Linked DNA regions of Homo sapiens: regions 2 and 3 are each linked to region 1. Evidence: fine-mapped expression QTL. A gene starts in region 1. Each other region holds a variant in brackets. All regions are shown on one strand. Distances are between the middles of the regions.

Region 1 (8,184 bases):
TTTTATATATTGGGGTGCTCTGGTGTTGGACACATATATATTTTTTTTTTTTTTAATTTTTTTGAGACAGTGTCTCCCTCCATCGCCCAGGCTGGAGTGCAGTGGCGCGATCTCGGCTCACTGCAAGCTCTGCCTCCTGGGTTTACGCCATTCTCCTGCCTCAGCCTCCTGAGTAGCTGGGACTACAGGCGCCCGTCACTGCGCCCAGCTAATTTTTTGTATTTTTAGTAGAGATGGGGTTTCACTGTGTTAGCCAGGATGGTAGCACATATATATTTATAATTGTTATATCCTCTTGTTAAATTGACCCCCTTGTCATACATAATGACCTTGTCTCTTTTTACAGTTTTTGACTTAAGTTCTATTTTATCTGATATAAGTGTGGCTACTCCTGCTTACTTTTGGTTTCTGTTTGCATAGAAAATCTTTTTCCATCCTTTCACTTTGCTTGTGTTTGTCTTTAATGGTGAGGTGAGTCTCTTGTAGGCAGCAATATGTTGGGTCTTGCTTTTTTGTTGTTTTTTGTTTTTTTTGAGTCAGAGTTTCACTCTTATTGCCCAGGATGGAGTGCAATGGCACAATCTCAGCTCATTGCAACCTCTGCCTCCTGGGTTCAAGTGATTCTCCTGCCTTACTTCCACTCACATAAAGGAAGCCCCGGATTGGTTTATAGATGGCAGCCATCAAAAAACCCTCCCCTCCAAGAGGATATGCCATTACTGAGGGATATCATGATGATACCCACTCTCTCCCACCTAGAAGAGTTGTAGAGGCTGCCCCCTTGCCTTTGGGCACATCCTACCAAAAAGCAGAAATTAATTGCCCTAATAAGAGCATTAACCCTAGCAAAAACCACACAAGTTAATATATACACCAATTCCAAATATGCCTATAACATCAACCATTCCAATGCCCAAATGTGGAGCAAGTGGGGCTATCTCATGGTTAAGGGAACAACTATCATTAATGGAAAACCAATCCATCATCTACTAAAGGCAGCTTTACTTCCAGGAAAGGTTGCAGTTATTCATTGCAAAGACATCAATCAGATAAAAGCTACATTTCTTTAGGGAACTGTGAGGCTGACTATTGTGCTCAACCAATCACCCAATTCCCCAATACCTATTTCCCCTCATACAACATATCCCCTCCTTTTATCCAGAACACCAAATACAACAACTAATCATGGCAAGGGCACAATTCAAACCCCCATACTGGTTCATACAAAACAAATTAGTCCTACCTGACCCTGAAAAAGCAACTCTTTCACAGGACATTCACAACCTCTTCCACACTAGCCATTGCCCTCTACATTTCTTAAGTTCCCATATACACATAACCCCAGATATAAAGGAACAGTTAAAAGCCATTCCCCATCAACGCTCTATTTGCCAGAAAACTTCACCCCACTGCAACACTAGACCCCCTTCTTTCCCAACCTGTCAAGCCAGGGGACACCTTCCAGGACAGGACTGGCAAATTGATTTTACCCATATGCCCCCAGTAAAAAAAGGTTCAATTTCTGGCCGGATGTGGTGGCTCACACCTGTAATCCCAGCACTTTGGGAGGCTGAGGTGAGCGGATCACTTGAGGTCAGGAGTTCAAGGCCAGCCTGACCAACATGGAGAAACCCCATCTCTACTAAAAATACAAAATTAGCTGGGCATGGTGGCGCATGCCTGTAATCCCAACTACTCAGGAGGCTGAGGCAGGATAATCACTTGAACCAAGGAGGTGAAGGTTGCGGTGAGCCAAGATTGCGCCATTGCACTCCAGCCTGGCAACAAGAGCGAAGCTCCATCTCAAAAAAAAAAGAAAGGAAAACAAATGAATCAGCCAGGCACGTTGACTCACGCCTGTAATCACAGCACCCAGGGAGGCTGAGGTGGGCAGATCACTTGAGGTCAGGAGTTCAAGACTGGACTGGCCAACATGGCGAAACCCCATCTCTACTAAAAATACAAAATTAGCTGGGCATGATGGGGCACTCCGGTAGTCCCAGCTACTTGAGAGGCTGCAGCAGGAGAATCGCTTGAACCCAGGAGGCAGAGGTTGCAGTGAGCCACCAAGATCACGCCATTGCACTCCAGCCAGGGTGACAAGAGCAAAACTCTGTCTCAAAAAAAAAAAAAAAGAAAAGAAAAGAAAAAGAATGAATCAAGCTTCCTATCTCCCAGAGCTCTCCTCCTATTCCTTAGGACTTAATCTTTCAGCCAGTATAAACTATTGAGACTTCAGGGCAAGAAAGACGCATGAAACTTGTGACCTACATCTACTGCTTGAAATATTGGGCCAAATTTTCAGATCTATCACTGGGGGTGGTTGGAATATCACATCTCAAAATTATCACACATCCTTACAATTTTTTATGATATCATGAATCCTACCATTTTTTCAACTCAACTCCCAAGGAAGTTAGTAATGACGATGAAACCACCATTGCAAGATTATGACTGAGACCATGAAGGAGATCTAACCTAATGGACTCCATCTTGGTTCTAACTTTAAACTGTCCTTGTTCCTTCCTGGGCATAGGCTAAACTAACTTTGGGAGGAATTTAGTTTATAGTTTAAAACAAAGACAATAACAGCCCTTTCCCAAAACAAACCTCCTCCTTGCCTGGGGACTAGACTGCCTTTATAAGATTAACAAATTAGCCACAAGATTAGAAATTATGGTTTAGGAGTCATGCAGCTGGAGGCCAAGATTCTGACCCTCCCTAAACTGCTCCTGAGACCAGTGCTTGAGATATTTTGCAGACCCTGCACTTGATGGATCAGCTGGTACCACCCAGATAGATAAACAGGCTCATCTGATCTTGTGGCCCCCACCAGGGAACTAACTCAGCGCATGAGGACAGACAGCTTCAACTTCCCATTATTTCATCTCCTACCTAACCAATCAGCGCTTCTGGCTCACTGGCTTCCCCCCACCCACCAGTTGTCCTTAAAAACTCTGATTCCCAAATGCTCGAGGAGACTGATTTAAATAATAATAAAATTTCAGTCTCCCGCACAGCTGGCTCTGCGTGAATTACTCTTTCTCTATTGCAATTCCCCGTCTTGATAAATGGACTGTGTTTAGGTAGCGGGCAAGGTGAACCCACGGGGCATTTACAATGACATCACTTGCCTTTGGATGCCCACTGAACCAGGACTCATTTCTGGGTTCCAATCTAATCCCAGTCACTGAGTTGCTGTGTAACTTGGGGCAAATTACCTTTATCCTCTTGCCTTCAGCTTTTCCTTTGGTAGGAAGGGAGCATTAGAGGAGAGATCATTTCAGTAAGGTCCTTTCTAATCCTAACAGTCTAAACAGATTATTATGAATATTAGAAGGTAATAATAAATGTTGGAGAAATTAACTTCAGTTACTCGTATAATATTTCAAATTACCAAAGGGTTTATATTAGATTTGAGGCTAATTCCAAAGGATATTTAAGGACCATAGCAGCAAGGATTAGGAGGCCCTTTTGGTCTGGACCTCACCTTCACAAGGGCCTCAAATTTAGATTTTTGAGAATATCTCCTTTAAAAGTAATTGTCAAATATGATTATAATAAGTTCATCATTCAACCTTATATATATATTTTAGAATCCTCTTATGCCTTTAGGAATAGCACAGTTAGTTCGTCCTATACTTTTTTAGGTGTTGAAAGTATTGTCAAAAAACATTTAAAATATGCCATTATTTTTGACATGCAGTTTGGGGTTATTTTAATTTTTTTTTTTTTTTTTTTTTTTTTTTTTGAGACGCAGTCTCTCTCTGTCGCTCAGGCTGAAGTGCAGTGGTACAATCTCAGCTCACTGCAACCTCTGCCTCCTGGCTTCAAGCGATTCTCCTGCCTCAGACTCCCAAGTAGCTGGGATTACAGGCGCCCGCCTCCATGCCCGGCTAATTTCTGTATTTTTAATAGAGACGGGGTTTCACCATGTTGGTCAGGATGGTCTTGAATTCCTGAACTCAAGCAGTCCACCCGCCTCGGCCTCCCAAAGTGCTGGAATTATAGGTGTGACCCACCACACCCAGCCTGGGGTCATTTTAATTTTAACGTACTAATGAAAGAAGTCTGAACTCCCTCCCTACCTCTGAGGATAATTTCCTTTTACTAGGAATTTACTCTGCAACTGGCACTTTGCTAACATTGCCTGTCATATTTTTTTTTTTTGAGTCCAGCTTCTGCAGAAGCCTGCCTAATGTTTACAAACCTACGATGCAGCCACTACAATTATCCCCATTTCAAGGTCGAAGAAATGGAGATTTATAGAAGTTGTCAAATCGCTTACTAGCACACAGCTAATAAGTAGTAAAGCCATCTCTCAAATCCAGGAAATCTAACTGCCCTGCCTGAGCTCTGAGTCAAGGGTCCTACTTTGGCTGCCAGCCAGCGACGACTTCAAGGGTAAGATCCTATGCGGGCCGTAAGGACTCTTCCCCTCCCCCTCTCCCACTTCTTCTATCCCAAAGTCGCTCTTCCCAATTCAGGGAGCTGGGACCACCCTGAGCCAGCGGCCCTGCGCATGCTCAACCGCAGAGCACGACGGGAGAGGGGCGGGGTCGGCGGGGCCGTTTCGCTTCGAAGATTGTTTCAGAAGCGTTGGGCGGGGCGTCCCTGAGAGAAATTAGTAAGCCTCCTCATGCGGCTCTGGTTTCGGTCTTTACTCCTGCGCCTTACTCGAAAGGGGCAGGGTTTCTGCTGTCGGTCGGAGGGAGGATGACGCGCCGGGTCGGGGTTTTAGAGACGGAGCTTTGAGTGCGGATTCCGCCAGATGGGGGTCGGGAACTCCGGGCCAGGCCCTGACGTGGATTGTGTTTGCCGCCTCCTTTAACCTTGCCCTCATAGACTGGGGGGGTTAGTGCTCCCCGCTTCCAGCGATTCTCGCCGCCTCCTGCTCCTGTGTAGTAACTGGGCCTTCAGACTTTAGTCTCGCTCCGCAGCCTCCGTTTCAGAAGCCCCATCACACCTGTATCTCTCCTTCATTGAGCAGTGATTTTTCAAAAGTTTGACTCCTGGCCGGGCGTGGTGCCTCAAGCCTGTAATCCCGACACTTTGGGAGGCCCAGGCGGGCGGATCTCTTGAGGTCAGAAGTTCGAGACCAGCCTGGCCAACATGGCAAAACCCCGTCTCTACTAAAAGTACAAAAATTAGCTGGGCTTGGTGGCAGGCGCCTGTAATCTCAGCTACTCAGGAGGCTGAGGCAGGAGAATCGCTTGAACCGGGAGGCAGAGGTTGCATTTAGTCGAGATCGTGCCACTGCACTCCAGAGCGAGACCCCGTCTCAAAAAAAAAAATGAAATGTTTGCTGAACCCCAAAAGCACAGTTTGAACGCTGCTGATTTACAAGATTAATTTTAAGGTATTTGGTATCAGGGACCTTCCTGACATGACCCATGTCTACTTTTCAAACTTTCCAGTTCCTTCTACTAGCACTCTTGCACTTGTACTTTATCTGCAACAACAGTCCCACTCCTTCTAGTTCCCATATATTTGTGCTTCTTTTTTTTTTTTTTTTTTTGGAGACTGGGTCTCGCTCTTTGGCCCAGGCTGAGTGCAGTGACACGATCACGGCTCACAAGCAGCCTCAGCCTTCCGAGCTTAAGCGATCCTCCCACCTCAGGTTCCAGAGTAGCTGGAACAACAGGTGCTCCCCACTACGCCCAGCTAATTTTTGTATTTTTTGTAGAGACAGGTTATCTTCATGTTGCCTAGGCTGGTCTCGAACTCCTGAATCGAAGCAATCCACCTGCTTGGGCCTCTCAAAGTGCTGGGATTACAGGCTTGAGCCACTGTGCCCGGCTATTTGTGGTTTTGTACATGCTGTCTCTATACCAGGAATATCCGCCATCATTGGTTGGTAGACACTTTAAAACCCAGCTCAAATTTCACCTCCCAGAAGACTGACCGTCTTCTTTTTTCATTTCTTCTCAGTACCTTGTATATACTTACTGGTTGGGACATCCTACTCATCAGTGTAACCCGGTACCAAGGCACTTCGGAAATGATGGCTCTTCATTGCCTGCAGAATTAACCATGGACATTTTAGTTTGGTTTGAAAAACATATAGCCTTCTGCCTCCAGCCTTCCCATCAGGCTAGTAAAAGACCTTGCAGAACTCAGTTGAATAAAATAATTTTTTTTTTTTGAGACAGCATTTCACTCTTGTCTCCCAGACTGGAGTGCAGTAGCGCGATCTCAGCTCACTGCAACCTCCACCTCCAGTTCAAGTGATTCTCCTGCCTCAGCCTCCCAAGTAGCTGGGATTACACCACACCTGGCTAATTTTTGTTTAGTAGAGACAGGGTTTCACCATGTTGGCCAGGCTGGTCTAGAACTCCGACCTCAGCTGATCCACCCTCTCAAAGTGCTGGGATTGCAGACAGGAGCCACCGTGCCCGGCCGAATAAAATAAATCTTAGCAAAGTGTAATGTATAAAGAAGTGGTATAATGCGAAGAAATAAGGGATAGGAGTATATCTGCTTCCAGACTCTGTTTTGTTTTTGCTTGTGTCCATACCACACTATCTTAATTTACTGTAGCTTTATAAGCCCTTCCAACATTTTTTTTTTTTGATATTGTCTTGGTTATGCTAGGCTCTGTATGCACATTGTATATACATTAGAATTACCTTACAAATTCCACAAAAACCCCTGCTGGGATTTTCATCTACAGCTTAATTAGGAGAAAAATTAATATTGACTCTTTCCATCAATGAGCATTTATTTAGATCTTCCTTAATTTCTCTCAGCAATGTTTTGTTTTCACTGTAGAGTTCTTTAATAGCTTTCATTAGATTTATTCCTATATTTGATATTTATGATGCTGCAGAAAATGGTTATTTTTATATTTTTCTGTTCTAGTATAAAGAAATAAAATTGATTTTTTGTTTGTTTGTTTGAGACGGAGTCGCACTGTGTCACCCAGGCTGGAATGCAGTGGCACAATCTCGGCTCACTGTAGCCTCTGACACCCAGGTTCAAGTGATTCTCCTGTTTCAGCCTCCTGAGTAGCTGGGATTACAGGTGCCCACCACCATGCCCAGCTAATTCTTTTGTATTTTTAGTAGATACGGGTTTCACCATGTTAGGCTGGTCTTGAACTCCTGACCTCAGGTAATTCACCCATCTCTGCCTCCCAAATTGCTAGGATGACAGGCGTGAGCCACTGCACCTGGCCAAAATTTATTTTCGAATGTCTTGCTAAGCTTAATAACTTGGAGATTCTTTTGAATTTTCTTTGTATAGAATCATGTCATCCATGAATAATAACAATTTTAACTGCCTTTTCAAAGTTTGTCTTTTATTTTTTCTTGCTTTATTGATCTAACTAGAACTTCTACTACAATGTTGAAGATAAGTGATAAGAAAAATTCTAAAATGCGGATCTTGTATTATCCTATAATTCTGCTGAATTCACTTATTCTAATAGTTTCTTTTGCGGGGGGTGAGTTGGGGGAGGTTCCTTAGAGTTTTCTATATGCAGTCATGTCTACAAATAAAAAGTTTTCTTCCTTTCCAACTTTTTTTTTTTTTTAAATGGAGTCATGCGCTGTCACCCAGGCTGGAGTGCAGTGGCATGATCTGGGCTCACTGCAACCTCCACCTCCTGGGTTCATGCAGTTCTCCTGCCTCAGCTTCCCGAGTAGCTGGGATTACAGGCGTGCACCACCATACCCAGCTAATTTTTGTATTTTTGGTAGAGATGGGGTTTCACCATGTTGGCCAGGCTGGTCACGAACTCCTGACCTCAAGTGATCCGCCTGCCTCAGCCTCCTAAAGTGTTGGGATTACAGGCGTGAGCCACCACGCCTGGCCTGCTTTCCAACTTTTATGCTAAATTCCCATCTACTATTTTACTTTAGCTTAAAGAATTTCCTTTAGTGGCCGGGCGTGGTGGCTCACCCCTGTAATCCCAGCACTTTGGAAGGCTGAGGCGGGTGGATCACCTGGGGTCAGGAGTTCCAGACCAGCCTGGCCAACATGGTGAAACCCCGTCTCTACTAATAATACAAAAAATTAGCCAGGAGTGGTAGTGCATGCCTGTAATCCTAGCTACTCAGGAGGCTGAGGCAGGAGAATCACTTGAACCCGGGAGGTGGAGGTTGCAGTGACCTGAGATTGTGCCATTGCACTCCAGCCTGGGCAGCAAGAGTAAAACTCTGTCTCCAAAAATAAAAAAAGAAT
Region 2 (8,184 bases), 260 kb after region 1:
CCATCTCTACTAAAAATACAGAAATCAGCTGGGCGTGGTGGCAGGCACCTGCAATTCCAGCTACTTGGGAGGCTGAGGCAGGAATATCCTTTGAACTCAGGAGGTGGAGGTTGCAGTGAGCCAGGATTGCACAACTGCACTCCAGCCTGGGTGACAGAGCGAGACTCCATCTCAAAAATAAAATAAAATAAAAACAATATAGATAGTACATAAATGGATTATTGTGTTTCTGACAAAACTTTAGGGACTCTGAAATTTGAATTTAATGTAATTTTTCATGTGTCAGGGAATGTTCTTTTGATTGTTTTTTAAACTATTAAAACATGTGAAAATCATTCTTAGCTCTTGGGCTATACAGAAACAGAAGGGAGGTCTCTTGGATTTGACATGCAGGCATAGTTTACCTACCCCTGCTGTAGGGTATATTTGAGGAGGTGATTGCTCAGGCCTAGGCAGGTGTACATTCTCAACTTTGCTAGAAACGCAAAACTTAGTTTCTTTTGTGCAGTTGATCCTTGAACAACATGGGCTTGAACTGTACGGGTCCACTTATGCATGGATTTTGGATTTTATTTAGTAAATACAGTTGGCCCTCTGTATCAGTGGATCCTGCAACCAAGCGTGGATAGAAAATGCAGTATGTGAGGGATGTGAAACCTGCTTATACAGAGGGCTGACTTTTTTTTCATATCAGCAGTCTCATGCCAACTGTAGGCCTTGAATATGCTCGGGTTTTGGTATCTGTGGGGTAGGGGAATGTCCTGGAACCAAAGCCCCAGTAATACCAAGGAAAGACTAGTTTTATCCATTTACATTTCTGTTACTGGTTAATTAAAGTTGTGGTCACCTCACATCTGGCCAACACTTGATTTATTAGACTTTTAATCTTTGTCAGTATGGAGGATATAACATGAACTTCATTTTGTCTTTAATTTGCATTTCCTTGTTAATGAGTAGTTGAACATTTTTCACATTTATTGGGTATTTTTAATTTTTTTTGTGAAATGCCTGTTACGTTAAATCTATTACCCACTTGCTATTAGTTTTTTTCTTATTGAATTGTAGGCATTCTCTAAATGTTCTGAACAATAAACTTACCAGTTATAGATGGTGCGAATAAACTTCTCATTCATCTCTTATGTCTTCATAAAATCTTTGCATATGCAGAAGTTAATTGATTTTAATGTAGTTGAACGATAATAAATTTATCAGTCTTTTCCTTTATGGTTTATATTTTAACCCCCATTTTATTTAGGAAAAATTTCCTGGGCTGAGATCAGGAAGAGCAATTACAGTTTGCCCTCTGTATCCATGGGTTCTGCATCTGCAGATTCAACCAATCGTGGATCAAAAATATTTGGAAAAAAATATTGATGATTGCATTTGTTCTGAACATATAAAGACTTCTTTTTCTTGTCATTATTCCCTAAACAATACAATATAACAACTATTTACATAGCATTAACATTATATTCTTTTTTTTTTTAAGATGGCGTTTCACTCTTGTCACCCAAGCTGGAGTGCAGTGGCGCGATCTTTGCTCACTGCTTCCTCCGCCTCCTGGGTTCAAGCAGTTCTCCTGCCTCAGCCTCCTGAGTAGCTGGGATTATAGGCACCTGCCACCACACCCAGTTGATTTTTGTATTTTTAGTAGAGATGGGGTTTCACCACACTGGCCAGGATGGTCTCAAACTCCTGACCTCAGGTGATCCGCCTGCCTTGGCCTCCCAAAGTGCTGGGATTACAGGCATGAGCCCATAATATTAAGTTCTATAAGTAACCTAGAGATGAATTAAAGTATATGGGAAGATGTGTATAGATTATGTGCAAATACTATTCCATTTTATATAAGAGACTTGAGCATCTGTGGGTTTTGAGCATGGTTGGGAGGGGTGTCTTGGAACTAGTGCCCCATGGATATGGAGGGATGACTGTATATTATTTCCTAAAATCTTTATTGATTTTGCCTTTCACGTGTAGCTTTTGAATTACCCTACACTAATTTTTTATATGGTGTGGAGTAGGGAACTAATTTTATTTACTATTATAAGGCTAATAAATTACCTTACTCACCAGCATCTATCAAATACTACCTCCTTTCTCCAGTAAGCTGCAAAGTTTCTCTATAACTACATCTGTAGGCATTTCCCCACATTCTCAGTTAATGTTTTCTTGGACTGTTTGTTTGTTTATTCCTGTGACAGTACCAAGGTGTTCTAATGAATGAGCTGTGTAATAATTCTTAATAATCTGATGGGACACATCCCTGAAAATTTTTCTTCAGGAATGTTTTGCCTATTCTTGCCCCTGTTTACATTAGAAATATCTTGGGAAGTTTCTGACAGAACAAAATCAAATAACAAAAATTTTTTGGGAATTTTATTTAATTATCATGAATGTGTAGATCAACTGAGAGAGAAGTGGCATTGTGTCTTTCTATCCATGAACTTGGTATGTCTTTGTATTTATTTAAATCTTCAATGTCTTTGAATACAATTTTATAATTTACTCTGTAAAGTAGCAGTCCCCAACCTGTTTTGGCACCAGGGACCAGTTTTGTGGAAGATAGCTTTTCCATGGACCCAGGCGTCAGAGGGAGAGGCAGGATGGTTTTGGGATGATTCAAGCACATTACATTTATTGTGCACTTTATTTCTGTTATTATTAGATTGTGATATATAATGAAAATAATTATACAGCACATTATAATGTAGAATCAGTGGGAACCCTGGTCTTGTTTTCCTGCAACTAGATGGTCCTATCTGGGAGTGATGGGAGATAAGTGACAGATCATCAGACATTAGATTCTCATAATGGGCAGGCAACCTAGATCCCTCACATGCATAGTTCACAATAGGGTTTGCGCTCCTATGAGAATTTAATGCTGCTCTCCTATGAGAATTTAATGCTGCTGCTGATCTGACAGGAGGCACAGCTCAGGCGGTAATTCAAGCAATGGGGAGTGGCTGTAAATACAGATGAAGCTTTGCTTGCTTGTGGGATGCTGACCTCCTGCTGTGAGGCCCAGTTTCTAACAGGCCATGGACTGGTACTGGTCTGTGGCCTGGAGTTTGGGTACCCCTGCTATAAAGGATTA[T/TC]CATGCAAGCTCTTTATTTTATATTTTAGCATTTAAGTTTTATTTAATTGGATGTAGGGCAAGGTTGGGGTCCACTTTTATTCCTTAGATGAGTAGCCTATTGTGCCACCATAATCTTTTTATCACTGAACTGAATTAGCACCACTGAGATATATTTAAAGTTCTATGTATATTGGGATCTATTTTGGAATTTCTATTACATTCTATTAATATATTTATTTTTATATTGATGCCATATTGATTTTTATTATTTGTATATTTATTTGAAGGAGTATTTTTAAATTACTGTGTATTTATTGGCTTTGTGGTATAGACATTTATCTGCTGGGTCAAGCCACTGTCTCAGTTTTATTTTTTGTAATTTTTGCTTTCCATTAAGCCACTAAATTTTAACATGATTTTATATACTTTCCAAAAATATTTTGTTGGACTTCTAATTGAAAATGATACATGTACATATATTACTTTTGGGCAGAATCAATATTTTTATTATGTATTTGTTCTTACATACAATAAGAACAATAAGCCCAAATCTTAGCATACAGATCTTATTTTATGCCATTCACTAACATTTTATTTTCAAGTAATATTTATTGTGCTTTTTCTTGTATCAGTTGTTCTTTAGTACTTTGACAAATGTAAAAATTTTTATTTTTTATATTGAAAAACTTTTTTCATTTCTAGATTCTTATTGCAAGAATAGTCAGGGTGTTACTTAATTCCCTTATTAAATCTAGTAGGCTTTTAAAATAAATTTGAATCTGTAGTTATGCATTATAAAGCCATATCATCTAAAACTATTTTATTTCTTTTTTCCAGCTTCTTCACATTATATAATTTTAGTGTTTTGCTAAAATTTGTAGGACTTCATTAAATATTAAAGTAGTAGTGACTTTTGACTAATTCTTGATTCTAAGTAAAGTAGTTAATTTGTAGTATTTTGTCATTGGGGGCTGATTGTAGTTGGTTTCTGTCAAATAGGCTTAGGCTTTATTACATTAAAAAATATATGTTCCCATTCTACCTTGAGGAATGGCTGAATAATATTCATATTTATATATTGCTAGATTCAGTTTGCTAATATTTTCCTGACAGAGTTTGTGTTAAGATTGGAGTTATAGCTTCATTAAATTTTTATACAATTAATCACTGAAATCATCTGGACCTAGATATTTCTTGGTGTGATGGTTTAAAATTCTGAATTCACTTTCTTTAATAGATACAGCATTTAAAGAATTTTATATTTCATCTTGTGTCTGTTTTTGGTAGGTTGTATTTTTCAAGGCATTTGTTCATTTCATTTTTGTTGTTATTTTTAGACAGGGTCTCGCTCTGTTTCAGGAGTGCAGTGGCGCGACCTCAGCTCACTGCAGCCCCCACCTCTCATGCTTAAGTGAGCCTCCCACCTCACCCTCCCCCGTAGCTGGGACCACAGGCATGTGCCACCATTCCTGGCAATTTTTTTTATTTTTATTTTTTGTAGAGAGAAGGTCTTTCTCTGTTGCCTAGGCTGGTCTCGAACTCCTGGGTTCAAGCAATCCTCCTGCCTTGGCCTCCCAAAGTTCTGGGATTACACTGCTCTTGGCCTCCATTTCATTTAAGTCGTCCCTGTCTTTTGAACTGTAAGCGTTTTGTGGGGGATGGAAAGTAGCATCTCAATGCATTTCCCTGGTAACCAATGGTGTTGAGCATTTTTCAGAGTACTTATTGGCCTTTCCTAAATGTTGTTTTGTGAAGTGTATGTTTGAATTTTTGTCCATCTTAAAATTTGTTTGTCTTCTTTTTATGAAGTTGTAAGGATCCTTTTTGTTGTTGTTGTTGTTGTTGAGACAGGGTCTCAGTCAGTTGCCCAGGATGGAGTGCAGTGGTGTGATCATGGCTCACTGCAACCTCAATTTTCTGGGCTCAGGTGATCCTCCCACCTCAGCCTCCTAAGTAGCTGGGACCATAGGCACATGCCACCACGCCCAGCTACTTTTTTTTTCTTTTTGTACTTTTTTGTAGAGATGGGGTTTCACCATGTTGCCCAGGCTGGTAGCGAACTCCAGGCCTCAAGCGACCTGCCCGCCTCAGCCTCCCAAATTACTGGGACTACAGGCAAGAGAATCCTGAGCCTGGCCCAGGATTCTTCATGTATACTAGTTTGGATACAAGTCTCAATAGATAGACTGATAGAAACAGATGGGGCTATCTCTGTGTCTGTCTCCATCAGTCTACATCTGTATTTCTCTCTCCGTATCCATCCATCCATCCATCTATGCATTCATCTGTTCTTTGGATTGCCTTTTGTTGTATTGTTGGTGTTCTTTGAAAAGCACAAATTTTTAATATTGATGAAGCCCAATTTTATTATTATATTTTTATGGTCTATGCTGTGTTCTAAGAAATCTATCATAAGATCATGAAAATTTGTACTTGCTTTTTTTCTAGAAACCTTATAGTTTAGGCTTAGCTTTTATGCTTAAGTTGATGATCCATTTCAAGTTTCTGTATGTAGTGTAAAATAAATCTTTTTGTATATGGATGTCCAGTTGTATCAGTAACATTTATTGAAGATTTTTTTTTTGGATTGATTTACCTTGGCACTTTTGTGGGAAGTCATTTGACCAATGTTTTTGAGTCTATTTTTGGACTTTTCTATTCCACAAATCCGTATGTTTATCCTTAGGCCAATATCACACTGTCTTGGTTAATTTAGCTTTATATTAAATCAGAAGTTTGGCTGGGCACAGTGGCTGACACCTGTAATCCCAGCACTTTGGGAGGCCAAGGCGGGCGGATTGCCTGAGGTCAGGAGTTCGAGACCAGCCTGGCCAACATGGTGAAACCCCATCTCTACTAAAAATACAAAAATTAGCTTTGCGCAGTGACGGGCACCTGTAATCCCAGCTACTCGGGAGGCTGAGGCAGACAATTGCTTGCACCCGGGAGGCGGAGGTTGCAGTGAGCTGAGATCACGCCACTGCACTCCAGCCTGGGCGACAGAGCGAGACTCTGTCTCAAAAAAAAAAAACAGAAAAATTGTTTTGGCTTTTCATGTCTCTTGTAGTTACACATACATTTTAGAGTCAATGTGTAAATTTCTAGAATAATCCACAGAGACTTTGGAGTTACATTAAATCTCTAGATTAATTTGGGGGAAAATTAACACCTTAAGTATATATAGTCTTTTCATAAGCATGGAATATTTCTTTTTTCCTTTTTTTTTTTTGAGACATTCTTGCTCTGTTGCCCAGGCTGGAGTGCAGTGGCGCTATCTGGGCTCACTGCAACCTCTACCTCCTGGGTTCAAGCGATTCTCGTGCCTCAGCCTCCTGAGTAGCTGGAATTACAGGCGTGTGCCACCATGCCTGACTGATTTTTATATTTTTAGTAGAGATGGGGTTTCTCCATGTTGGCCAGGCTGATCTTGAACTCCTGGCCTCAAGTGATCCACCTGCCTCGACCTCCCTAAGTGCTGGGATTACAGGTGTAAGCCCCTGTGCCCAGCCGCTAGGATGTTTATTACAGTATTGAGTAGAAGTGGTGAGAGGAGAGATTTTTAACTGTTTTTTTCAACTTAGGGGGAAAGTATTCAGTCTTAAACTGTTAAGTAGGTCATGAGATGTTGATTTTTTTTTTTATAGATGCCCTCTCTCAGATCAAAGACCTTCTTTTCTCTTTTTAGTTTACTGAAAGATATTTTCATGAATGAGTATTAAATTTTGTCAGTTGCTTTTTCTCTACTTAGATGATCATGTTATTTTTTCCTTTAATGTGTTAATATGAAGATGAATTTTTAAATATTAAACTCACTTTGCATTTATGGGATAAATCTTACTTATGATATATTATTTGTTTTATATGTTTCTATATTCAATTTGCCAATATTTTAAGTATTTATGCTAATATTTTAAGCAGCTATGTTTGTGAAAGATACTGGCATGTATTTTTCATGTAATGTGTTTTCCTGGTTTTGGTCCCAGGGCAATATTGGCCATATAAAATTAGGAAATATTCCTTTCTCATATTTGCTTAAAGAGTTCATATAAGATGGGTTATTATTTCCTAAGTGTTTTATTTACTCAATTCACTAGTGGAGACATCCGGGCCTGGGGCCATTCAGATTTTCTATTTCTTCCATGTCAGTTTTGGTAATTTTCACCTTTTGAGCCATTTCTCTATCTGCACAGTCAGAGTCTGCATCATCATGGAAATGTTCTTGTACACAGTTAAAGTATGGTAGCCACTGGCACCTGTGACTGTTGAGCACTTGAAATGTGATGGGTGCAGAACTGAAGTTTTAGTTTGACTAAATTTATTGCTTCTGGGCCTCTTGGCTAAGATCAAGTGTAATTTAATTAGAATTAAGTTTAAATAGTCAAGTGTCACGTGGCTACTGTATTGCATATCACAAAGCTAAACTGTCATTTATTTTTGTAAAGTTGTTAATCATTCTTATGTATTGCCATCAAGTTAATAATATTTTAAACTGTATGGACCTCCAGTTGTTTATAATATTTTCTTAGTTTATTTTTAATTTCTATGAAATCTGTAGTCCCTTATTTCATTCCTGATATTGGTAATGTGTATCCTCCACCACTCCCCGTATTACTTTTTTTTTTTTAAAGACAGGTTTTTACTCCTGTTGCCCAGGCTCTAGAGGGCAGTGGTGCGATCTCGACTCACTGCCATCTCCGTCTCCCGGGCTCAAGCAATTCTCCGGCCTCAGCTTCCTGAGGATTACTGGTGCATGCCACTTCACCGGCTAATTTTTGTATGTTTTGTAGAGATGGGGTTTCACCATGCTGCCCAGGCTGGCCTTGAATTCCTGGGCTCAATCAGTCCGCCTGCCTTGGCCTCCCAAAGTGCTGGGATTACAACCGTGAGCCACTGTACCCAGCCTCCCACATTACTTCTTAAAAAACATCTTTAAAAACTTTAATTGTAGTAAAATATACGTAAAATGAAATTTACCGTCTTCACCATTTTTAAGTGTACAGTTCAGTAGCATTAACTGTTTACATTGTTGTGCAATCAGTCTGTAGAATGCTTTTCATTTTGCGAAACTGAAACTGTACACCCAATTTCCCAACTCGAAATTTCTC
Region 3 (8,184 bases), 40 kb after region 1:
TCGGAGTTTGATTATTGCAAAATAAAGCAAATTTCAGAACTGTTATTTAAATGGAATGAACCATTAAATGAAACAACAGCAAAACATGTTCAGGAATTTTATAAACTTGATGAGGACATTATCCCAGAACTTAGATTTTATCGACATTATGCAAAGCTTAACTTTGTCATAGATGATAGTTGCATAAACTTCGTCAGTCTCGGCTGTTTGTTTATTCAGCATGGTCTTCACAGTAATATTCCTTGTCTCTCAAAGCTATTATATATTGCTTTGTCTTGGCCAATTACTTCAGCAAGTACTGAGAACTCATTTTCTACCCTGCCTCGTCTTAAGACATATTTATGTAATACCATGGGACAAGAGAAGCTTACTGGCCCAGCCCTAATGGCTGTTGAGCAGGAGTTGGTAAATAAACTAATGGAGCCTGAAAGACTCAATGAAATTGTGGAAAAGTTTATCAGTCAGATGAAAGAAATATAATACATGCTCATTTGAACTTACCTAAAAGACTTGTATTTCCATTGGGATGTTTTCATTTCAAAATTGTTCAAAATTCAAAAGACACAGAACGATAAACAGTGAAGTCTCCTTCCCTCCTTTAGAACTCATTTTCTCTTCCCAAAAAGTGTTATCTTTTCCTTAAATATCCCTCTAGAGGTATTTTTCCTAAGTGGTATTGTACGGTGTATACTGTTCTTCAGCTTGTCTTCTCTGTGTAACATATTTTTGAGATTGTCCCATGTCGTTACATGAAGAGTTTCTTGATTCTTGGTCTATAATTGCAGATGTTATTGTATGAATGTACCATAATATATTTGAGCAGTCCCTGCTGACATTTTTTTCCTAACCTTTTGCTATTATAAATAATGATTCATTTTATAACCTTTTATATAGGTCACATTGCACATGAGTGAGTTTACTGTAAGCTGGAAATCTAAAGTTAGAATTACTAGGTTAAGATATGTGCATTTTTACTTTTGATAGATATTGGCAAGTTGCCATCTATAAGGATTGTGCCAGTTTACAGTCCCACCCACAATGCATGAGAGTGCCTATTAAATCTTTGTAAGTGTTATCAAATGTTTTGATCTTTCCTAATCTCTTACTTTAAAAATGGCGTTTTAATCTCAGTAGAATTTTGTATATTCACTTAAGAATAAGGTTGGGGACTGGGCGTGGTGGTTCACACCTATAATCTCAGCCCTTTGAGGGCCTACACAGGAAGGAAGATCGCTTGAGGCCACGAGTTCAAGATGAGGTTGGCAACATAGTAAGACCTCATCACTACAATTTTTTTTTTTTTAAATTAGTGAAGTGTGGTACTGCACACCCGAAGTCCCAGCTACTTGGGAGGCTGAGGCAGGAGGATTGCTTAAGCCCAGAAATTTGAGGCTGCAGTGAGCCATGATTGCACCACTATGCTCCAGAGTCTAGGCAACAGAGTGAGACCTTATCTCTTTAAAACAAACAAGAATGAAGTTAGGTATCTGTTTATTTGTTTGAGCCATTTGTATTTCCTTTTTTGTAGACTGTCCTGTTTAAACGTTAAAATCACTGCTGTGGTTTTGATTTATACATCTCAGCTGGATGGCACAATAAATTATTAAGCCATGTTATGAAAATATAACTATATTTAAGTAACCTGCAAAGAAAAGACTATTTCTTTATACTTCAAAAAAGTTTTGTTTTTGTTTTGAGATGGAGTTTTGCTCTTGTTGCCCAGACTGGAGTGCAATGGTATGATCTCGGCTCACTGCAACCTCCGCCTCCCAGGTTCAAGTGATTGTCCTGCCTCAGCCTCCCAAGTAGCTGGGATGACAGGCGCACGCCACCACGCCTGGCTAATTTTTGTATTTTTAGTAGAGATGGGGTTTCACCATGTTAGCCAGGCTGGTCTTGAACTCCTGACGTCAGGTAATACGCCCACCTGGGCCTCCCAAAGTGCTGGGATTATGGCATAAGCCACCACGCCCAGCCAGAAAAGTTTAAATAACAAAGAAAATGTGATATTCAAAGATTTGAAAGAATTAAGTGGTATATATATCTAGGCCTGGAATTTTTTTTTTTTTTTTTTTTTTTTTTGAGACGGAGTCTCGCTCTGTCGCCCAGGCGGGAGTGCTGTGGCGCGATCTCCGCTCACTGCAAGCTCCGCCTTCCGGGTTCACGCCATTCTCCTGCCTCAGCCTCCCGAGTAGCTGGGACTACAGGCGCCCGCCACTGTGCCCGGCTAATTTTTTGTATTTTTAGTAGAGACGGGGTTTCACCGTGGTCTCGATCTCCTGACCTCGTGATCCGCCCGCCTCGGCCTCCCAAAGTGCTGGGATTACAGGCGTGAGCCACCGCGCCCGGCCTTTTTTTTTTTTTTAAAGACTATTTCTCTGGCACTTTTCTCCAGCTGTTTCTCCCTTACCCTCTCATCAATTTTGATAACTTGTACTTTTTCTAGGAGAACATCTATTTCATTGAGGCTTTCTTTCAAATGCATTTGCCTAGAGTTGTAGAAAATATTCTCAGTATCTTCTATATACCTGTTTTACTTTCTTTCTTTCATTTTTTAAGACGGAGTCTCGCTCTGTTGCCCAGGCTGGAGTGTACGGTGGCGTGATATTGGCTCACTGCAACCTCCACCTCGCGGGTTCAAGTGATTCTCCTGCCTCAGCTTCCCAAGTATATGGGATTACAGGTGCCCACCACCACGCCTGGCTCATTTTTTTGTATTTTTAGTAGAGATGGGGTTTCACCATGTTGGCCAGGCTGGTCTCGAACTCCTGACCTCAGGTGATCCACCCACCTTGGCCTCCCAAAGTGCTGGGATTACAGGCATAAGCCACCATGCCCGGCCCTAATTTATTGATTTCCACCTTAAAAAAGAGAAAACAGGCCTGGCGCAGTGGCTCACACTTGTAATCACAGTACTTTGGGAGGCCGAGGCGGGCAGATCACTTGAGGTCGGGAGTTCAAGACCAGCCTGACTAACATGGAGAAACCCCGTCTCTACTAAAACTATAAAATTAGCCGGGCGTGGTGGCACATGCCTGTAATACCAGCTACTCGGGAGGCTGAGACGGGAGAATAGCTTGAACCCCAAAGGCTGTGGTTGCAGTGAGCTGAGATCGTGCAATTGCACTCTAGTCTGGGCAACAAGAGAGAAACTCCGTTTCAAAAAAGAGAGAAAATAGGCTGGGGACGGTAGCTCACGCCTATAATCCCAACACTTTGGGAGGCTAAGGCAGGCGGATCACAAGGTCAAGAATTCAAGACCAGCCTGGCCAACATGGTGAAACCCCATCTCTACTAAAAATACAAAAAAAATGAGCCAGGTGTGGTGGTGGGTGCCTGTAATTCCAGCTACTCAGGAGGCTAAGGCAGGAGAATCACTTGAACCCAGGAGGCAGAGGTTGCAGTGAGCCAAGATCGTGCCATTGCACTCCAGCCTGGGCGACAAGAGTGAAACTCCGTCTCAAAAAAAAAAAAAAAAAAGAAAATAGAAGTTAACTCTAGTATTGAATGTGTGTTGCATATATTTTCATTCTTTTAATGGAAGTGCTTAAGGCTATGAACTTTCCTCTAAAGTCAGCTTGGTCAACCATGTGTTTTTTCATTTTCATCATTTTCTAGCTGTTTTTAGTTGTAGTTTCTATCTTGTCATAAAATCAAGAAGTTGGGCCAGGCATGGTGGCTCACGCCTGTAATCCCAGCACTTTGGGAGGCCGAGGTGGGCGGATCACGAGGTCAGGAGATCGAGACCATGGTGAAACCCCGTCTCTACTAAAAAAAATTAGCCAGGCGCAGTGGTGGGTGCCTGTAGTCCCAGCTACTGGGGAGGCTGAGGCAGGAGAATGGCGTGAACCCGGGAGGCGGAGCTTGCAGTGAGCCGGGATCGCACCACAGCACTCCAGCCTGGGCCACAGAGCAAGACTCCATCTCAAAAAAAAAATCGAGGTTGGTGTTCTTGTTTTCATTTTCAAGTGTTTGTTTTCTATTCTTGTAGTCTATTATACAGCCAATAATGTAAA[AAAT/A]AAACTTACATTAAGTATAACAGCTATCTTGGTTGAATGCCTATTAGCCTATTAAGTAACCTAGTACTTCCCTCAGTGTTTTACATATATTATTTCATTTAGTTCTCATAACAACCTATTATTTTACAGAAGAAACTAAAAAAACACATTATGGATTACACAACTAATAGGGGTGAAACTGGATTTGTACCCAGGTAGTCTGACTCCAAAGCCCATGCTGTCAATCACCATGCTCTACTACCTCTTAGACAACCATTATCACTTATAAATATTCCTAAATAAAAGATTATCAGAAGTCCATTAAAAAATAGATGGCTGGGCATGGTGGCTCACACCTGTAATCCCAATACTTTGGGAGGCCGAGGCAGGTGGATCACCTGAGGCCACGAGTTCAAGACCAGTCTGACCAATATGGTGAGACCCCATCTCTACTAAAAATACAAAAAAATGAGCCAGGCATGGTGGTGCACACCTGTATTCCCAGCTACTTGGGAGGCTGAGACGGGAATCGCTTGAACGTGAGAGGCAGAGGTTGCAGTGAGCCAAGATTGCGCTACTGCACTCCAGCCTAGGCAACAGAGTGAGACTCTGTCACAGAAAAAAAAAAAAGTCAGAAATAGTTGTGTCATTTTTGTTAATCTCCCCAAATCCCTTCATAAAAACAGCAACTAGGAGAGTTAAAGCAGAAATCCATGCACAGCATCTACTGCTAATCTTTGTGACAAGGTATCTCCACAATCCCAAAATATGATCAGATAGTGACAAAAGCAGCTATAAGATCTGCTTGGGACATCTGTGTGGAAAGCCGTGGAGGAAAGGCAATGGGACATCTGATGGCATTAAGAATAGGAGAGCCCTCAAGTCAACATGTTTTCACTGGAAAGCATGGTAGGCCAAAAATAAAATTTAAAAAATTGGAACCAGGTGTGGTACCTCACGCCTGTAATCCCAACTGTTTGGGAGGCAGAGACAGTGAATCACCTGAGGTCAGGAGTTTGAAACCAGCCAGGCCAACTGGTGAAACCCCATCTCTACTAATAATACAAAAATGAGCCAGGCGTGGTGGTGGCAGGCACCTGTAATCCAAGTTACTTGGGAGGCTGAGGCAGGAGAATCGCTTGAACCCAGGAGGTGAAGGTTGGAGTGAGCTGAGATCCTGCCACTGCACTCCAGCCTGGGCAACAGAACCAATGAGACTCCCATCTCAAAAAAAAAAAAAAAAATTCTAGCAACAGTCAAAACACAGAAGGTTTCTATAGACTCCAATTTGCCCGTGAGTTTGTGGGGATGGTGCTAAGTTCTGAAGATGTAGTGGTCTAGGTTCTCATGAACTCTTGAAACTAACAAATTTGAGCTTCATTCCAAAACAAAACCCCTCTGAGGTTGTAGATTCCAAATTGAGCAGGACAGTGACAATAAGAGGTAAAAGAAAGAAAAGGTATAGACAGAAGTGAGAGAGAAGCAGAGGAAACATCTCAAAGTATTAGGCTATTTTAGTCACTTTCTGAAAATAATAGAACTTCATGAGCCTTGAGGCTAGAAAAGCTATTCTGTCGTGTCTCTCCCAATAAGTACAGGAAAATGCATTTCACGTGAAAGTAAGCAACAGAAAAAGATTATGAAATATAATACAAAATTGCATAGAAAACAGCAAAGTAAATCCCTACCAAACAGGTGAAAATTAACATGATGTTTCAAAACAAGCTAAAAGCGCCTGGGCAACATAGTGAGACCCCGTCTCTGCAAAAAATAAAAAAAGCTGGACGTGGTGGCTCGCACCTGTAGTCCCAGCTACTTAGAAGGCAAACGTGGGAGGATTGCTTGAGCCCAGGAGGTCGAGGCTGTAGTGAGCTGTGACTGTACCACTGCACTCCAGCCTGGATGATAGAGTAAGACACTGTCTCAATAAATAAATTTTTAAAAATATGGGGCCGGAGCGATGGCCTGGGTCTGGAGCCCGCGGCCTCCACCGCCCACAATAACAACAACGTGTAGGGAGCAGCCGCGGCCAGAGCCGGAGCAGGGGCCAGAGTTGCGGCTAGAGTAGGGCCTGCGCGTTTGAGTGACTGAGAGTTGCCCCTGCCTGAGACCTCAAACTCCAGGCGGAAGCGCTATCGGTTGGCTGAGCAGCCGTAGCCCGCCGCACGGCGACCCCCAGGCCCAGACAGCGGGGCGGAGGTCTCGTAGGCGCGGGACTGGCTTCTCTCAGGATGAGCCCTTAGAGCCGGGCTCCGGATCTTTCTCAGCCTCGGGCCCCTTTCACTTTCAGGACAGAGGCCAGAGAACGGTGATCATCACACACCCCAGCCGGCTTCCTGGCCTGGGCATTTTCTCCGCGGCCAAGCAGTGTTGGGGTTGTAGCTGCTGGGAGCTCCCTCCTGCCGCCACCTCTTCTGCTAGGAAGGGACTGACGCGTTCCCACGTTCTTGCTCTGCACCTCCCCACTCTTCCCACTCAAGAATAAGTTTCTCGGCCGGGCGCGGTGGCTCACACCTGTAATCCCAGCACTTTGGGAGGCCGAGGCAGGCGAATCACGAGGTCAGGAGATCGAGACCATACTGGCCAACACAGTGAAACCCCGTCTCTACTAAAAATACAAAAACATTAGCCGGGCGTGGTGGCAGGCGCCTGTAGTCCCAGCTACTCAGGAGGCTGAGGCAGGAGAATGGTGTGAACCAGGGAGGCGGAGCTTGCAGTGAGTGGAGATCGTGCCACTGCACTCCAGCCTGGGCGACAGAGCGAGACTCCGTCTCAAAGAAAAAATAAATAAATAAATAAATAAATAAGTTTCTCTTCCCTCTCCATTGAAAATTCTGCCCCGGAGGTCCAAAACATCTATTTTGTGTGCCCTTCCCCAGCTCCTGGAGCAGCACCCTTAGAAGTATTGCCTACTCATCAGGGCTGAGAATCCTTCATTTTTGACTTGGCTTTTTTCGCCCTTTGGGAGATAAAGGTCCCTTTCCACCCTCTTTACTAACGCTCTGCCCACCAGCCCTTATCCTTGGGGTCATCAGCTCCTTGGCCATTTCTATGTGACTTCCCCCACCCATCTGAGTTCCAGCTTCCTCTGGGCTCCAATCTCCAGTCCCTGGCGGAGTGACTAGGGGGCTCTGGCCCAGGATCCCCAACCCTGGAAGGCAGCTCTAACGCAGGAAGAGAATTGGGCGTCGGGTGCGCACCTGGCAGCTCAGGAGTCGGGGCTCCACTCACCCCACACAAGAAGATGAAAATGCCCAAAGAGCTCAATGTATTGATTGGTTTGGCTGGGGACAGCCAGAGAAAGAAGCCCAAGCAGTCACCGCCTGCTTCGCCCTGAGCCTCCTGACTTAGACTCTGAGTCCAGCTCCAAGGAGGAAGAGGAATTCGGTGTGGTTGGAAATCGCTCTCGCTTTGCCAAGGGAGGCTATTGACGATGCTGCAAGATCTGCTATCCGCTCTGTGGTTTTGTCACCCTCTCTGCCTGTGTTGTGGCCTGTGTTGGCTTGGTGTGGATGCAGGTTGCTCTCAAGGAGGATCTGGATGCCCTCAAGGAAAAATTTCGAACAATGGAATCTAATCAGAAAAGCTCATTCCAGGAAATCCCCAAACTTAATGAAGAACTATTCAGCAAGCAAAAAAAACTTGAGAAGATTGAATCTGGAGAGATGAGTTTGAACAAAGTCTGGATAAACATCACGGAAATGAATAAGCAGTGCAGGGTCGGGTCATGAGTGGCCAGAGCCTATCCTGGCAGCGTAGAGTGCAAAGCGGGAACCAATCCTGGACAGGAAGCCATCCCATCGCAGGGCTTACTCATACACACGCTCACACTCAGACTGGGACCATTTACGCATGCCAACTAACCAAACATGCACAGTTTTGTGATGTGGGAGTACCTGGAGAAAACCCACGCCAACATGGGGAGAACATGCAAACAGACAGTGGCCCGGCCAGGAGTCAGATTTTTTTCTCCTCAATGTTATAACCAAATGACGTTGAACAAAACATTATTCAAGGACCTGCTGTAAATAGGAAAGTTTACTTCTGTCCTAGGGCTTCATCTATGAAGCTGGAAGAGATTGCACTGAAACCCTTTCCATTTCAGCATCAACATGCCTTCAAAGATTCTGGGACTGACTTATGAAGCCAGCCTGATAACAGAGGACTTCTCTGCGAGCACAGGTCC

Evidence for each region.
Region 2: its variant is fine-mapped to the expression of ZMYM1 in whole blood (TOPMed, PIP 0.93).
Region 3: its variant is fine-mapped to the expression of ZMYM1 in whole blood (INTERVAL, PIP 0.99).

What each region holds. Positions count from the first base shown.
Region 1 is chr1:35,074,816-35,082,999 of GRCh38, forward strand. ZMYM1 (zinc finger MYM-type containing 1) reads left to right here and starts at 4,570. Exons shown (of 10, transcript NM_024772.5): 1 at 4,570-4,627. RefSeq lists an enhancer at 4,477-4,995.
Region 2 is chr1:35,337,766-35,345,949 of GRCh38, forward strand. All of the region lies in intron 2 of ZMYM4 (zinc finger MYM-type containing 4), which reads left to right. Among named protein-coding and RNA genes, the nearest start is that of ZMYM4-AS1, 24 kb to the right of the region's middle. The variant T/TC (reference allele first, on the strand shown) is at 3,098.
Region 3 is chr1:35,114,780-35,122,963 of GRCh38, forward strand. ZMYM1 (zinc finger MYM-type containing 1) reads left to right here. Exons shown (of 10, transcript NM_024772.5): 10 at 1-1,080. The coding sequence ends at 480. It also overlaps the pseudogene EFCAB14P1. Among named protein-coding and RNA genes, the nearest start is that of ZMYM1, 39 kb to the left of the region's middle. RefSeq lists an enhancer at 6,195-6,314. The variant AAAT/A (reference allele first, on the strand shown) is at 4,017.